Linked DNA regions of Homo sapiens. The protein of the gene in region 1 purifies or fractionates together with the protein of each later gene. This does not show direct contact. Each region holds a gene or a part of one and is shown in the gene's direction. Other genes may lie near its edges. The genes, in order: MC3R and MRAP2.

The links.
Region 2: the proteins of MC3R (region 1) and MRAP2 purify together in Homo sapiens (co-immunoprecipitation; one study listed by IntAct). This does not show direct contact.

The regions. Positions count from the first base shown.
Region 1 is NC_000020.11:56,247,109-56,250,518, forward strand, and holds MC3R (melanocortin receptor 3), read left to right. Parts: upstream 1-1,623; 5' UTR 1,624-1,735; coding exon 1,736-2,707; downstream 2,708-3,410. UniProt on the Homo sapiens protein: Receptor for MSH (alpha, beta and gamma) and ACTH. This receptor is mediated by G proteins which activate adenylate cyclase.
Region 2 is NC_000006.12:84,085,627-84,088,757, forward strand, and holds part of MRAP2 (melanocortin-2 receptor accessory protein 2), read left to right. Parts: intron 1-1,235; coding exon of another isoform or gene 1,236-1,315; intron 1,316-1,561; coding exon of another isoform or gene 1,562-1,655; intron 1,656-3,131. UniProt on the Homo sapiens protein: Modulator of melanocortin receptor 4 (MC4R), a receptor involved in energy homeostasis. Plays a central role in the control of energy homeostasis and body weight regulation by increasing ligand-sensitivity of MC4R and MC4R-mediated generation of cAMP.

The DNA.
Region 1 (3,410 bases):
TCTCTGACCACCCTCCAAGTCTTCCAAGTCCCCATGGCCACTCCCTTGCTCCAGGCCACCATCATCTCACCCTGGGTCTTTGCAACACCCTCTGCCCCGGACTCCCTGGCCTACATGCTCAGTCTGTCTAATTCATTCTCCACCCTGCAACCAGGAATATTTCTAAAATGCAGACCCCATCTCATTCCTGCCCTACCTATGTTTCTTCCACAGTCCCCATTGCTGTCAAGGTACTGTCCAAATTCTCACATCTGGCTGAGGCTGTCCTTCAGGATTCAGGCACCTCTCAACTTTTTAAGAAACTGTGCAGCCTCATTTCTCAGATTGTGTCTCCTATTTCCATGCTCTGACCAGAGCAGACTACTTTCAGCACTTTCAAAAGCCCAAGATTCTTTTTCAGTGGAGCTCAACTGTGACTATGCCCCAGCTCACCTGTCAAAAATTGCAAACACACTTGTTCAGGTCTTACACCTGGGTGATTCTGACTCCGCGGGTCAAATGGGATCTCCACATCCACAATCTGTGATGACTTCTATGGCCAGGGTGCTCTCTGCCTCCAGGCTGCAGACGTGTGATTCCCTCTGCCTGGAGTCCTCTTCTACCTCCTCCAGCTCCAGCCCCCACCCCACCACCCACCCCAAACTGGATATGACCTCTTCCTCCTTGAAGTCAAAGCATAGGTGCTCCTTCCTCCAGGAACTTTGACAGTCCGGGTTAGGGCTCTTCCTCTTTGCATCCCTGGTTTCCTGGACTTTCCTGATTCAAGCATTTATTGATTCCTCTTCTTCCACCCCAGACTCTGAGTTCGGGGAAGCCTGAGATAGTGGCTGTTGTCTTGCTCACCACTGTATTTCCTGCACTCAGCAGAGACCTGACACATAGTAGGCGCTCAATAAATGTTTGCTAAACAACAACAACAAATGAATGAACTAACAAATAAACAAACAAATGAACAGATGAGTGGATGCCTGTGGCAGTTTCCATGACAAACACAAAGGGCTAAGCCAAGCCAGCAAGCAGACAGCCGTGCGGCCTGCAGAGGGCACTAGTCTGCTTCTTAATCTCCCTGCAGAATCCTCAGGGCCAGGTACCTGCTGTCAGTCAGAGAGGTGCCCGATGCTCAGTGGTCATTCTGCTGCGCTGAAGATTAAGTAGGAGTTGTTTGCCCTTGGCCAATATGAAAAACCTGAGTGTTCTCCCTTCACTTCTAGCGACAAGTAACACATCCCCTGTCTTGCCATGAAAAGAGCTGTAACTGTAGCAGCCGGTGGCAGGTTTTCTGTTCCCAGGTGGGGAAGTGAGGAGAGACAAACAGAGGGGTGAGAGGGAGACAGAAGGAAGACAGCTGGTAAGAGACCCTATGGTGTATTTTTTCTATGTAAACAAGATAAAAACTGCTCCTCCTGGAACAGCAAAGTTCTCCCTATGTCTCCAAGCTACAAACTTGCATGCTAGCTACTAACTAGCTACTCTCCCTCTCTCTCTCTCTTCCCCCTTCGCTCTTTCTCTCTGTGTGTATGTCTCTCTCTCTCTCTGTCTCTTCCTCCACCCTCTCTCACTATCTGTCTCTCTACCCTCCCCATCCTTTTATTCTAGAGGAGAATAAACTCTAAGGCCAGATTGAATGAGCATCCAAAAGACGTATCTGGAGGGAGATTTTGTCTTTCCTGTGAGCAGCAGCAGCTTCCTACGGACCCTGCTGGAGCCCCAGCTCGGATCAGCCCTTCTGACAGCAATGAATGCTTCGTGCTGCCTGCCCTCTGTTCAGCCAACACTGCCTAATGGCTCGGAGCACCTCCAAGCCCCTTTCTTCAGCAACCAGAGCAGCAGCGCCTTCTGTGAGCAGGTCTTCATCAAGCCCGAGGTTTTCCTGTCTCTGGGCATCGTCAGTCTGCTGGAAAACATCCTGGTTATCCTGGCCGTGGTCAGGAACGGCAACCTGCACTCCCCGATGTACTTCTTTCTCTGCAGCCTGGCGGTGGCCGACATGCTGGTAAGTGTGTCCAATGCCCTGGAGACCATCATGATCGCCATCGTCCACAGCGACTACCTGACCTTCGAGGACCAGTTTATCCAGCACATGGACAACATCTTCGACTCCATGATCTGCATCTCCCTGGTGGCCTCCATCTGCAACCTCCTGGCCATCGCCGTCGACAGGTACGTCACCATCTTTTACGCGCTCCGCTACCACAGCATCATGACCGTGAGGAAGGCCCTCACCTTGATCGTGGCCATCTGGGTCTGCTGCGGCGTCTGTGGCGTGGTGTTCATCGTCTACTCGGAGAGCAAAATGGTCATTGTGTGCCTCATCACCATGTTCTTCGCCATGATGCTCCTCATGGGCACCCTCTACGTGCACATGTTCCTCTTTGCGCGGCTGCACGTCAAGCGCATAGCAGCACTGCCACCTGCCGACGGGGTGGCCCCACAGCAACACTCATGCATGAAGGGGGCAGTCACCATCACCATTCTCCTGGGCGTGTTCATCTTCTGCTGGGCCCCCTTCTTCCTCCACCTGGTCCTCATCATCACCTGCCCCACCAACCCCTACTGCATCTGCTACACTGCCCACTTCAACACCTACCTGGTCCTCATCATGTGCAACTCCGTCATCGACCCACTCATCTACGCTTTCCGGAGCCTGGAATTGCGCAACACCTTTAGGGAGATTCTCTGTGGCTGCAACGGCATGAACTTGGGATAGGATGCAGGGCCATGGAAATGATCATCAGTCGGGTCACTTTTGACTTTCCATCCACGTGAGGTGTTTAGAAAGAAAAATATATATACTTAGAAAATATAAAAATGTGTTAACAGCCATGATTGTACTTGTCGTTTGTTTTTAAGTTTACAAAGCCTTTTAAAGGGGAAAATTGGTGAACAACAGATTCTCTGAAAGGATTCCAAGATGGGTAAGTCACAAACTCTGATTTCCCAAATAGTCACTGGGAGAAATCAGCGAAGGCTTCTCTGCATGCTCTCTGCACTCATTTCCAAACACCCAGGGTGTGCGACGCCTGTCTGCTCATCTGCTCCACACCCACGTCTTCATGCTCCAGGCCAGACCAGACTGAAGGATTCTCATGAACAATAAGGGTGGTTCAGATCTCTTGCAAGCAAACCTGTTACAGCTACGACCTCCTGCTGCCAGCTACACGGAGAGATAGCTTTGCACTTATAACTCCGTAGGAGACTGAGTTCTACTCTATTATTCTATTTACAGTTAGACAATTGTCTCTTTGTGAAAGGAGCAATGCTATGCCGTTTTCCCCTTTTCTTACCCCCATATCCCTTCAGTTGTCCCCACCCCCAAAGGTAGCATGAGGATGTAACCCACTTCTATTTTTCTGTTGTTGTGTTGGTGTGTGTTGTTGTTTTGTTTTTATGGATTAAATCTAAGACAACCT
Region 2 (3,131 bases), on another chromosome or scaffold:
ACCAAACCCAAATCGGATTGTTCACAGAAATTTTAACCCAGGCATGCAGATCAAACAAAATATTAAACTAGGCATGCAGAAAGAACCAAAAATGAACTCACCAGAAAAGACATGTCTCCAAGACAGATTGTAAATGTTGTAGAAACCGGAGTACTCTCCACAAGGACACTTCTCAGGAAGAGCTTGCCAAAAACAGAATTTTATAGTTCCAAGAGAGATGCAGCATTCTTCATTTAAGGTAGGCTGATAACCAAACCAAATCTCAGATAAAGTCAAAAAGCCTCTATCAGGAAGAAGGGGCTTAGCCTGAGTGAAGACTCACCAGGGAAGAACAGGTGAGCCATGGAGGCAGAGAGCTCAAAGGGCTCAAGGTGAGCACAGCCTGCAGGTTCCAAGAATCACTGATTCCTTCCAAAAGTGATCTTGCTTCAGGTTCCGCTTCTGGAGACCATTTATGTCAACCTAAATAACAAATACTGAGAGGTTCTCTAAAAGAAAATGATGTTTACATGGTAATGGGTCATTGCAATGAAAATACTCATGCCATATAACTTATGTGCATATTCTGGGAAGTAAAAGAAGACAAAGTTTTTTAAAGGAAAAGTAAGGAGGATTACATGATTGTTTGGAGAGAGTTATCCTTAGCTACAAGGAACAATATGGGTGGTGCCAGTTCCAGGTTGGACAGGCAGTTGCTGGGCAGATGTCCTTATAGAAGTATTTTTTTGTGCAAGGTTATGGTTTTTGCCATCTTTCATGATTGTTCTTGTTATCAGACATTTGTGAGTGAGAATTCCCACTTCATGGCCTTCCCCAGCTCTATTCATCAGGATATTTTTTAATAACATTAAGTGACTCCATATTTATTCTGACAACTTTCACAACATACAGGTCCTTTTGTTTATCAGTCAAGGAAAGAAGAAACAAATAAAAGTCAAGTATATTGAGTGTTTAATATTTACTGGACTCTAAGAGTACAAAGATGAACTTTTTGCTCTTCTCAGGAAGGGAGAATCAGACACATCATACTGTTGCCATACCAAGGGATCATCGGGAGGAAGCCAGAAGGGAGGGGGTGGCCATGGGAGCACAGGGTAGCCTCAGGGGGCAGGAAAGGCACCTCAGAGGGGCTTTAATGTCCACTGCCTTGGCACTGTCCTGGGGAGGGACAAAATTCTCTTGGTCTCTTGTGCCTTAGTTCTCCAGCAAGGGTGACTAATGGACTTTAATTCCAGGAAACATAGCTGTGTTATGGAAGAGCAGCCACACACAGCTGGGCTTCTGGGTCTGCTGTCACACTCAGCTGGTGCCACAGGTAGGCAGAAAAGCTATTTCTCAGAGCTTCTTAGCCTTGGAATTGAGGAATGGTGTGGACCCCAGCAATCTTAATTATGCTTTCTCCAAATGCTTTGTGAACCCCCAAAATCCGAGAGAGGTCTCAGTTAATTTAGAAAGTTTATTTTGCCAGGGTTGAGGACACACACCCATGACTCAGCCTCAGGAGGTCCTGAAGACATGTGCCCAAGGTGGTTACAGCACAGTTTGGTTTTATCCATTTTAGGGAGACATGAGACATCGATCAACATATGTAAGATGAACATTGGTTCAGTCTGGAAAGGCGGGACTACTCGAAGCAGGGAGGGGACTTCCAGGTCGTAAGTAGATAAGAGACAATGGTTGCATTCTTTTGAGTTTCTGATTGACCTCTCCAAAGGAGGCAATCAGATATGCATTTATCTCAGTGAGCAGAGGGGTGACTTTGAATAGAATAGGAGGCAGGTTTGCCCTAAGCAGCTCCCAGCTTGACTTTTCCCTTTAGCTTAGTGATTTGGGGGTTCAAGATATTTTCCTTTCACAGCTTTAAGCCACTCTTTTTCCTAGGTGACATTTTAGTTTATCAGGTCACAGGTTGCTGGCACACTCATCCCTGTTCTCAAATATCTTTTAAACCTGAGAGAAATGACAGTTGAGGGAAACTCATTTACAGAAAGACAAAGAAGACCATGTAAATTTGCACTAAAGCATAAATCTTCAGTCTCTCTAAAATGATTTTCTCTGAATTCTGAATACCTGACATAGTAGAATATTGGATTCTTGCATAAACCCTTGACGTTCACAACATGTTTGTTTAGTGGGCAGTGAAAATTGTTAACCTGGCTTATTATTAAAAGGAAAAATACAGGTTTCTGAAAGGATTTCTTGCTTGATGTCACCCAGGTAACCATGCTAGGAGACAGATCTGATATTAAAATTCCTTCAGCTAGCTGGATTACAAACCTTCTAGGGTTGCTGACCTCTGAAATCCAGGTGATTTTGATAATTTGGAGTTTAGTGATATACAATCAGGTTTTCCAGACCTGTGTTTTTTTTGTTTTTGTTTTTTTGTTTTTCACCTCTGCCCAAATTCTTACAGAATTTGGTCATAAGTGCTTTCTCCTGAGTGATAGGATGGGAAGGAAGAGATTTAAGAACTGGAAACACTGAGAGGATTACACATCTGTTGAGCACAAACTCCAGGGCTTGATTTTTGTCAGGTTCTGTTCTGGACTTGAAAACACATTCAGTCATGATTTGTGCCTTTAAGGAGTCACTACCTGTGCATGGGCAATCCTTCTTTAAGTCTGGAAAGGATGGTGATTAAAGTAGATGGAGTATCAGGTTCTCAGCTTACCTGGGCTCTTTCTTTCACGCACTTGTGGGACTCATTGAGAGTTATTTTATTCACTCATTGACTCATTTATTACCCTTGAACTGCTTATTTGTTCCACGTTAAAGGAAACAAGGAATTAGGAATCTGGGTTTTATTCCCACTCATACCACAAACTGATTGTGTGACTAAGTGGGCAATTTGACTGCTCCTTACCTGAGTTCATACGTTTGTAAAATGCACATCATAATTCTTGCCCTAACTGACTGTATTGGTTACTTTTGAGAATCAAGTGAGAAAAATGGATATTATAGCATTTTGGCAAATATTTAATGTACCCCTATGAGACAGTATTATTGTTTTTAGGCCGGTGGTTCTAAACTTCAGTATGAGTAATGATCCTTAGAGAATATATGAAAATGCTTATTACTGAGCCTACATTCACAGATTCTGAGGGTCTGTGACCCAGGAATCTGCATTTTAA